Regions from separate parts of the Homo sapiens genome. Here region 2 is linked to region 1. A link means that fine-mapping ties the variant in region 1 to the expression of a gene that starts in the linked region. Tissue or cell type: esophagus mucosa. Region 1 holds a variant in brackets; the other region holds the start of a gene. All regions are shown on one strand. Distances are from middle to middle.

The links. PIP is the estimated chance that this variant, and not a neighbour inherited with it, causes the effect.
Region 2: it holds the start of ARHGAP23, and the variant in region 1 is the best candidate, but not a certain one, in a credible set for the expression of ARHGAP23 in esophagus mucosa (GTEx, PIP 0.82).

What each region holds. Positions count from the first base shown.
Region 1 is chr17:38,465,549-38,470,764 of GRCh38, forward strand. ARHGAP23 (Rho GTPase activating protein 23) reads left to right here. Exons shown (of 24, transcript NM_001199417.2): 7 at 619-1,783; 8 at 3,596-3,751; 9 at 3,976-4,087; 10 at 4,299-4,356. Among named protein-coding and RNA genes, the nearest start is that of ARHGAP23, 40 kb to the left of the region's middle. RefSeq lists enhancers at 1-75, 3,727-4,363. The variant A/G (reference allele first, on the strand shown) is at 3,121.
Region 2 is chr17:38,426,194-38,431,409 of GRCh38, forward strand. ARHGAP23 (Rho GTPase activating protein 23) reads left to right here and starts at 2,271. Exons shown (of 24, transcript NM_001199417.2): 1 at 2,271-2,355. The coding sequence starts at 2,293. RefSeq lists enhancers at 2,435-3,344, 3,345-4,252.

The DNA.
Region 1 (5,216 bases):
CGTCAGCCTCAGCTCCCAGTGCCAAATTCCAGGCCCAGGGGTGGCAGAAGGTGGCTCAAGTCCCCTCCTTCAAGCCTGGCAGGAGGTGGGCAAACTCCTTCTCACCCCTGTGGCTCAGGAGCCAGCTCCCCATTCCCGGGGATGGAGGGACAGCTGGGCTCTGCCAGCCTCTGCCCCACCCAGACACACCCCTAGCCGGCTTTCTTCTCTCATCTGCCACCTTGACTGGTCTCGGTGGGGTTTTCCGGCTCCACCCGAGGAGCTTTGGGCATTGGTGGACATAAGGGGGCAGGCAGGCGGTGGAGGCCAGGACTGGGGGAGGACCCCAGGAAACAGATGCTGGAATGTTTGTGGCTAGGGCAGTCCTTGTCACAGTCTTAGCGAAATCCCACTTTTGCTGGAGTTTGCCTGCGTCTCAAAGGCTTCTTGCTTCTTCTTTGTTCTCTCCCTGGACCTGCCCTTCCACCCCCACCCACTTATGCCTCTCCCTCGTTCCCCCCACCGCTTGGTCCTCTCCCTTCATTTCCCTCCTGGGCTCCTTGACCTCCTCGGGCTGCCGTTCCCCTACCCTGTGGGACTTGTCTGGCCCTGCTTACCTGTCTCTGTGTCTCTGGCCAGGCCTACTCCCAGGATGCCTACCTGAAAGGGAACGAGCCGTATTCTGGAGAGGCCCGCAGCATCCCAGAGCCACCCCCGATCTGCTACCCCCGCAAGACCTACGCCCCTCCTGCCCGGGCCTCCACCAGGGCCACTATGGTGCCTGAGCCCACCTCAGCACTGCCCAGTGACCCCCGGAGTCCTGCTGCCTGGAGTGACCCGGGGCTCCGTGTGCCACCTGCTGCCCGTGCCCACCTGGACAACTCTTCCTTGGGGATGAGCCAGCCCCGCCCCAGCCCTGGTGCCTTCCCCCACCTCTCCTCGGAGCCCCGGACGCCCCGTGCCTTCCCAGAGCCTGGCAGCCGGGTGCCCCCCAGCAGACTGGAGTGCCAGCAGGCCTTGTCACACTGGCTGTCAAACCAGGTACCCCGCCGGGCGGGGGAGAGACGGTGCCCAGCCATGGCCCCCCGGGCCCGCAGCGCCTCCCAGGACCGGTTGGAGGAGGTGGCTGCCCCCCGCCCGTGGCCCTGCTCCACCTCCCAGGATGCTTTGAGCCAGCTGGGCCAGGAGGGCTGGCACCGAGCTCGCTCAGATGACTACTTGAGCCGGGCCACCCGTTCTGCCGAGGCACTGGGGCCAGGGGCACTGGTGTCACCCCGCTTTGAGCGGTGTGGCTGGGCTTCCCAGCGTTCGTCTGCCCGCACCCCCGCCTGCCCAACTCGGGACCTGCCAGGGCCCCAGGCCCCACCCCCGTCTGGCCTGCAGGGCCTGGATGACCTCGGGTACATCGGCTACCGGAGCTACAGCCCATCATTCCAGCGCCGGACCGGCCTCCTCCATGCGCTCTCCTTCCGGGACTCACCCTTTGGGGGGCTGCCTACCTTCAACCTGGCCCAGTCCCCTGCGTCATTCCCACCAGAGGCCTCCGAGCCACCCAGGGTTGTACGGCCGGAACCCAGCACCCGGGCCCTGGAGCCTCCTGCGGAGGATCGCGGCGATGAGGTGGTCCTGAGGCAGAAGCCCCCGACGGGCCGCAAGGTTCAGCTGACCCCCGCAAGACAGATGAACCTTGGATTTGGTGACGAGTCCCCAGAGCCAGAGGCCAGTGGGCGAGGGGAACGCCTGGGCAGGAAGGTGGCCCCTTTGGCCACCACCGAAGACTCTCTGGCTTCCATCCCCTTTATTGGTGAGTGATGGTACATGTGGCTGTCCTGGGGGACTTAGCTGTCGGCTGTCTGTGTCCTGCTGTACCCCATCTGCCTGTCTGCCATGGGCAGAATTCGGCTGGGTGCTGGTGGGATCATCTTGTTTCTCTGTCAATTCATTCATCTGTTCATCCATCCATCCATCTGTTCTTCCATCTTTCTTTCTGTTCTCTGTCATCCTTTCTTCCATCCTACCTCTCATTCATTTATCCTTTCAGCATCTTTCCACGCACTCTTTCTTTTTTCCCTCTCCCCATCCATCCATCCATCCATCATCTGTTCTTCCTTCCTTCTTTCCTTCCTCTCTCCCTCCTTTGTTCATTCATTTGTTCCATCCATTCATCCATCTATCCATCCATCTATTCTTCCTTCTTTCCTTCCTCTCTCCCTCCTTCTTTTGTTCATTCATTTGTTCCATCCTTTCTTCCACCCATTCATCCATCTTTCTTTCCTTTGACTCTTCCTTCCATTCTCCCATTCTTCCTTCCATCTTCCCTTTGTATCTTTCCCTCTTTGTCCTTTCCATCCACCCTCCATCCCTCCATCGACTCAACAGATATTTGTGTCAGGCCCTGTGCATGGCTCCATGCTCTCCTGGACTGGATGGCCCAGCAGAGGGTGTTGGACATGCAGGGACAATCCATTGGGATGGGCGTGTCGTGGGACAGGGAGCTTGAGGAGACGGGCTCAGAGAAGGGCTATGGTGAGAATCTTGGAGAAAGAACATTTGGGCTAAGACTTGAAGGATGAGAAGGAGTTTATCAGGGGAAGAATATTCAAGGAGAGGGAATAGAATATGCAAAGACCCTGAAGGGAGAGAGGCAGGACCCCCTTCCAGGTTGTGAGGACCCTTTCAGGCCCAAGGGTCTCATTAGTCACTGGGGTTGGCTTTTGAGAGCAGAGGGAACCCTCTAAGGCTTGCCTTGCCTTCGACTGGATGCAGGAGAGGGAGAGGCAAGAGAGTAGAGTGGCTGGGTGATGCCCAGGTTTCTGGCCGGGCTTGGGGGTGGTGCCTCACCCCCGTGTTGGGAGTGAGAGGGGGACAAAGTTCAGGACTGTTGAATATGAGGTGTCCAAGAGGGAGCAGGATAGACGGGGCTGGGGAGAAAGAGCAAGATGCAGGGTAATGGAGAGGGATGGTGGTAGATGGGAGATGAGCTCACCCTACCAGACAGTGAGAGGGAGGAGGCCTGGGGCAGGGGGAAGACACAGCCCTGGCTCCCCCAGCCAGCCTTCGGTGGAGCAGAGACACAGCCCCTTCTGCTAGTAAGGAAGGCTCTAGGCTGTGGCCGGGAGAGGCAGTCTCTTCTTCCACAGC[A/G]CAGTCTGTTTGAGGGGGAGATGTCATCTCTGCCCTTGAGGAGCCCCAGCTGATGGGGGAGCTTTTGCCCTTAGGAAGCTCTCAGTCTGATGGGGAAGACACTGCCCCTGCCCTCAGGAGGCTCTTGGTCTGAGAGGGGAGACATAATTCATTCTCTCTGAGTGCCCTCAGTCTGATGAGGGAGACACCGTCCCTGCCCTCAGCAGGCTCCCAGTCTGATGGGGGAATATTGGCTCTGTCCTCTGGAGCCCGGTCTAAGGAGGGTGGCTCAGCCCCACTCCTGAGGGTAAGGATTCCATGGCCACAGTCTGGACAGTGGGCCAGTCATGCTTGACAGTGGGCATGTTGCCAGCAGGACCCTTTGGGATGTGTCTGAGCCTGGAGGCGAGTGGCACGGGGGCTGGCAAGGCTAGGGTGGAGGCAGGCAGGCTCCGCTGTCTGCTGCCTTCACACCTTTCTCCTTCCACATGCATAGATGAGCCCACCAGCCCCAGCATTGACCTCCAAGCCAAGCACGTCCCTGCCTCTGCTGTGGTCTCCAGTGCCATGAACTCAGCCCCTGTCCTGGGCACCAGCCCATCTTCCCCGACCTTCACTTTCACCCTCGGACGCCATTACTCGCAGGACTGCAGTGAGCACTCCCCACACCCCCAGCCCCACCCTCTCCCTCGCTGCCCAGTCCCAGGGGTCTCTGTTGGGCCTGCTGCTTGATGTCTGGCCTCTTCCTCTGGTTTCCGCTTCTCCTGCGGCCCCTTGGGAGAGTCACCTCCTGCCCCTGCCCAGAAGGGAGGGCTCTGGGAAGCCCCTGACCTGCTGCCCCGCTGACCCTGAGGCCCGATGTGGGCGGCTTTGCAGGCAGCATCAAGGCTGGCCGCCGCTCCTCCTACCTGCTGGCCATCACCACGGAGCGCTCCAAGTCCTGCGATGATGGACTCAACACCTTCCGCGACGAGGGCCGGGTTCTGCGGTGAGGCCCTGTCCGGACACGGGGTGGGGTGGCCACAGCCACCGTGGCCAGCTGCTCTGGGGCAGGGCTCTTGGCCCTGGGGGTCCTCTATGCATGGGACAGTGTGCCTCCCCCGCTGGAAGGCTTCTGGGCTTGGGGTTTGGTGGGTGACGAGATAGTGAGGTCCCAGCTTTGCTGCCCACATCCCTCACCCTCGACCCTCGCTTTCCAGGCGCCTGCCAAACCGCATACCCAGCCTGCGGATGCTCCGGAGCTTCTTCACCGACGGGGTGAGAGCTGCAAGTGTGTGTGCGTGCGCAGGAGCGAGGGTGTGGGGAGAGAGGGTGTCAGGGAGGTGGGGCCACAGCCTCGGCATGGGGGTTCCTGCTCCAGCTCCTGCCTTCCTCCTCCTCCCTGCACCCCTCACCCTCGTGTCCACCGCGGGACCCGCCCTCTGCTGTGGGCCCCGACATCCCTGAATGACACCATGCAGCCCCGCCCATGGGCCCTCGTCTGGACTGCCTCTTTCCAGACCCATCCCCCATAGCCACATGACTCACTTCTCCCCTGTCTTCGCGGCTTTTTAGGTCTTCCCTGAAATTCCAGCCTCCGCTCCTGACATTTCACGCCTCCCTTCGCTACTCTATGTTTTCCTCCTCAGCACGCCTCATGCACAATTGGTGTTTCCCTTCCTCCCTGCCTGGCTCCCCAGCTAGAATAGAAGCTCCCTGAACTTATATTTGGGGCTTCATTTGTTTCCTTCACTACCCTCAGTCAGTATTTGCATCGCGTCTTGTCTTCATGGGATGGGGTCGGGGTGGACACTGGAAAGGTGTGGCCGGGACACAGGGTTGAGACTGGTGGACAGGTAGAGTTCCCAGCCTCAGGACCTGGGGAGGCAGGATCAGGCCTGTGATAGCCCTGGCTGTTTGTTTGTTTTGAGACAGAGTCTCACTCCATTGCCCAGTCTGGAGTGCAGTGGCATGATCTTGGCTCACTGCAACCTCCACCTCCTGGGTTCAAGCTATTCTCCTGCCTCAGCCTCCCGAGCAGCTGGGATTACAGGCGTGTGCCACCACGCCTGGGTAATTTTTGTATTTTTAATAGAGACTGGGTTTCACCATGTTGGCCAGACTGGTCTCGAACTCCT
Region 2 (5,216 bases), 39 kb before region 1:
GCTACAGGGCAGAAAGAGACAGGAACAGGGACCTGGTGGAAAGTTAAGCAAGAAAATCCAAGCAGTAGGCCAGGCGCGGTGGCTCATGCCTGTAATCCCAGCACTTTAGGAGGCCGAGGAGGGTGGATTACGAGGTCAAGAGATCGAGACCATCCTGGCCAACATGATGAAACCCTGTCTCTACTAAAAATACAAAAAATTAAAAAATTAGCCAGGTGTGGTGGTAGGCGCCTGTAATCCCAGCTACTTGGGAGGCTGAGGCAGAAGAATAGCTTGAATCTGGGAAGCAGAGGTTGCAGTGAGCCAAGATGGCACCATTGCACTCCAGCCTGGGCAAAAAGAGTGAAACTCCATCTCAAAAAAAAAAAAAAAAAAAAAATCCAGGCAGTATGACAGATTACAGTTAGACAGCAGGAAGGACTTTCCAGAAGTGGAGGCTAATTCTGGCTGCACATGACCTTGATAAAAAGGGATGAGGAAGGGAGAGGAGTCATTTAACTGCCCCTCCATTATTATGAAACAGAATCCCTTTCTCTTGACTGCCAGGGGATTTAAAATACATTAAATAAAGCATATGAGCTAAACCCCAGTCAGTATCTCATTCCTCAGGTTCACAGGAGTAGGGATGGCCTAATTGTTGTCTGGGGCACCCCAACCCCTCTAAGACCTGAGTTCCCAACCCTGATCAAGGTTAAAGGGGTGGAGGTCTTGGGGCTGCTCGGCTCTCAGGGGTCTCCTTGCCCAAGGAAGGTGGTGACTCCAGCAGGCAGAGCTGGCCTTCCCGCTTTCACTGCCTCCTCTCTCCAAGTCCTATTTTATCCTCCGCCTTCTTTTCTACATAATCTGGGAAAAGGAATATGGAAGCCCCTTAAACTGAAAAAGTCATGGGAAAGAGGTAAGCATAAGCTGGAGGAAGTAAGAAGCAGGAAGAATGGGAGTTAGATAGTAGAAAGAATTTTCTAGCTATTTTCTAATAATGAAGGACAAGGCCAGGCATGGTGGCTCACGCCTATAATCCCAGCACTTTGGGAGGCTGAGGCAGGCGAATATCACTTGAGGTCAGGAGTTTGAGACCAGCCTGGCCATCCTGGTGAAACCTCATCTCTACCAAAGTACAAAAGTTAGGTGGGCGGTGTGGCATGGGCCTGTAGTCCCAGCTACCTGGGGAGGCTGAGGTGGGAGGATCACTTGAACCTGGGGGCAGAGGTTTCAGTGAGCCTAGATTGTGCCACTGTACTCCAGCATGGGTGACAGAGTGAGACCCTGCCGAAAAAAAAAAAAGGAAAAGAAAGACAGAAGGACTGTCCCTCCCTGGACTGTCAGGGGATGGGCTGGAGGGGGTCCTTCTGGGGGACAAGGAAAGAAGCTGGCTCAGGACCAGGGCATCTCTTTAGGCCCAGCTCAGAGTGAAGCCAGGAAGGGTGGCTGTGGGGTGCTGGTGATTGGGAGCCTCTGCTGTCACTGCTGTTCACTGCAGAGCAGGACTGTGGGCTGGCCCCATGGCCTGAGCCCCAGGACTGGCTGGGTGGGGGTCCGAAGGGCTGGGGCACCTGCCAGCCTCTCTTCTATGCTCGACTCCCCCTCCTCTCTGGGATCCTGGGCTGAGACTCTGGCTGGGAGGGGCTTACCCTACACTGAGGGGCACCCCGTCTCCCCACCCCCTGCACTAAATCTTCCCTTGTGTCTCAATGTCTAGGGGTCTCTAAAGGGAAGGGGGCCTCTAAGCCTTTTTCTGTCTTCCCCCCTTTCTGATCCTGGGTCTCCTCATCTTTGTTTCTGACTTTCTCTGCCTCTCTCTGCGCTGTCTCTATCTTGTCTCTGCCTTTCTCATGCTTTCTGGGTCTCTGGATCTCTGTTTCTGACCATCTCTGGCTGGCTGTTTCTCTTTGCTTCCCTCTCCCTCCCTCCCTATCCCCGTGCTAGTTCTGGGTTCGGTGCCCTTGTCCTCTTTCCTGGGCCTGGATGGCCCTCTATCTGGGCCGGTCCCTTAGAGGCCGGGCAAGCGTCTCCTGGAGACCGCCTCTCTTCGCCAGGCTGGGCTCTGACGTCCAGCTCTCAGGCAGCGCTCGCCTCTGCCTCAGCCCGGTTGCAGGTCTGTGGCCCTTGAGCGAGGCCGCCGGGGCACCCAGAAGGGAGCGCGGGGTGGGTGGTGGGAAGGGGGAGGGGCGAGGGGGCGGACCCCGGGGGGGGCCCCCCCACACCGCGCTCGGCCCCGCCCCCGGCCCCGCCCCTCCCGGGTCCCTGCCGGCGCCCCCAGCCGTGCCCCGGCCGCAGAGCCGCCGCTGCCACCCGATGAATGGAGTCGCCTTCTGCCTGGTCGGGATCCCGCCCCGCCCGGAGCCCCGGCCCCCACAGGTGAGGGTGCTGGGCCAGGGAAGTGGGCGGGGCCGGTAGCTGCTGGGGAGCGGGCTGCCAAGCCAGGGTCGCTGCGACCCCGCTCGCCCTGCACAGCCTGGGGCGCACGGTGGGCGCGGGCACCGCGGGCACCGCTGCGGGGAGATTCAGCTGGTGGCAGGCCCGGGAGGGGGCCCGAGCAAGAGCTGTCCGGGGTAGAGGGGTGGGAAGGACGGAAGCAGGCAAGGGGTCGGGACGGGCACGGGGCTGTCAGGACAGGGGGCACAGACCCAGGTGGCGGTGCCAGGCCCCCAGCGGCTGGGCAGCGGGGGCGGGAGGCCCGCGGCTTTTGTTCGGGTTTTTCAGGCGGGGCGCCTGCCGCCGTTTCCTCTGCCCGAGTTTTCGTTTTCCGTTGGCGAGGCCCCGGCACAGCTGGAGGGAGAGGGGGTGGGGGAGGGGGTTCCCGGAGCGGGACGTCCTCCACTAAGGCGTCCGGACACCCCCTCCCCGCGCCACACTCGCCCCCTGCCGGGTCGGACTGCGGGACGGGTTGCCAGGCGCGGTTCCGCCGCCCTCCTGGATCCTGGGGAAGTTCTAGACACAGGCCCAGGACCCCGGGCTCTGCCGGCGAGGCTGCCCTCCCCTCTGCCCTCTCCGACCGGCTGTGGGTGGGTCAGAGCGCGGGGTGCCAGGGGCATTACTCAGCGCTGGGCTGCTCTGCCTGGGTTCTTTCATCTGCCAGCTGCTGAGGCTGGGGAGGGGCCAGCAGGGGCCTCCCAGCCCCATCCCCCCATCAGGGCCATTCCCTTACCTCTGAGCCTGGCTGCCCGCCCTGCAGGAGCCCCCCAGCAGGCCTCCCTGCTCCTAAGTTGAAGGGTTGAACACTGTCAGGCCAACAGTTTCCCTGAGCTCGGAAAAGAAATTCCCCGGGGTCCAGGTTGAGGTCAAGGCCAGGGCTGAGGCCTGTTCCTCTTTAGACAGGGCTGAAAGACTTGGGGACCCTCCTCCCCAGCTTTCCCGGCAGTGTTGAAGGTGGGATCTGGTGCTTGCAACTCTTTTGGAGACTGGTGTGTTCCTTGGTTGCTGGATGTGTGTTCAGTTCTCCCTCAATCTGCATCTCTCCCCGACTCCCTTCAGCCAAAGTGTGTTTCCTAATTATGAACTTGAAATTCAGGATGGACGGGGGGTGGGGGTGGAGGTCATGAATCCAAGCATGAGTCCCTTGGATTCAATCCCCCACCAGCAACACATACTTCATCTCTATCCCCTGCACCCCTCTCTGTCTCCACCCCAACCCTGCGGCCTAGCTGGGGGTGAGTGGCTTTTGATCCCATGTGGTTCTCCCCTCTGCCAGGGCAACAGACCCCATTCCCCAAAGTGACAGCTCTCACTGCCATGTGCTCCTTGGCATGCGATTTGAATCTCGATTATATAACCAGTCATTTCGCCTCCAAAGGCAGCCCAAAGGCCCCCGGCCCCAGCGGCTTCTTCCACTTGCCCACAGTGTGGTTGGGTCCACCCCAAGGTGGCTGGGAATTCCAAGATCCTGCATCTGAGGACCTGACCTCTTCTTGGGAACCATGGGAGCAGTAAATCCTCTACATTCAGTGCTGGATTCAAAGGCCTCAATAATAATAAACAGGAAGAATGGGAGTGGGCAGGGTAGGTGTTGGTGTCCCATTTCACAGAGAGGGTCTGAGCCTATGTAGTGACAGTGCCCAGGCAAGAACCCAGGACACTTGAGGGTAGTCAGGGCACAAGATGAAGCTTGGGGAGGAAAGCTGTTAGGAAGGTGTCTGACTACGGGAATAGGTCAGGCTTGTGTGGATCCCAGCCCAAGCAGAGAAGGACTGGGTGGGGGGAAGAGGCCCTGTGCTTGTGCCCCTCTCCTCGGGCTGACCCTGGCTCACGGGGAAGAAGTGCAGCATTCTTGGCATGGATGGGAGTGGGGGTGAGGGAGGGTGCTGGTTCTGAGCAGAGCAGTGCAGGAGTGGGTAGTGGATTGCTTCATCCTACATTGCAGGGATACTCAGAAGGACTTCTTGATGTGTAAGGTTAAAAGAGAGACTACAAAGCAGCAGCATGGAAGAAGTTACAGTGTGAGGGACTGCAGTTAGATACTCAGGAGAACTTCTAGGGAGGGGCTTGTGACCCACAGCATCCCAGGCTAGCCATGCAGGGAAGTTTCCTCCAGTATAGTGGGTCAAGTGGATTCTTGTGAAGTTGGATTCCAATGTAGAAACCTGGAGATGGTCATTGGAGATATCAAATATTCCAGCAAATATATTCAAATGAGCACTGGTGCCTGGAAACAAAAAATGTGTTTTTAAGAAAGGGGAGTTGCTTTCACAGTATAGCTCATAGTTAATACACAGACAGCAAAAACTCCTGGCCAGTATTTATAAAAACTACCTCATTTGATCCTCACAATACCACTAAGAGGTAGATACCATTATTATCCCCATTTTACAGTTGAGGACACTGAGGCATAGCCAATATTGCAGCCCAAATCACACCCCCAGTGCACTGTGGAGCCAGGGTAGGAATGTGGCAGTCTGGCTCTAGAGTCTGGCTCTCACCCTCACTATCTGGCTTCTCAGGACCTGCTATGTCCCGCTGTCACTCCCACCCCAAATCCGTGTCCATTTTCTACACAGCCCAAGATCAAGGTCAGCTTCTGGCTGGATTGCAGCTTAGTTGCTTGTCTTTTGTTCTATTTCTTTACTCCTCCAATCTTTCCCACCCTGCCCCATGCTAGCCCATAGCACTGGGCCAGGGCTCGGTTCACTGGTGTTTTCCTTCCAAAGGGGCATGAAGCCCTGCTCTGTTGGCTGCAGGGGTTCAAAGGTAAGATATTGGCTTGGTCAGGGATTTGGACAAAG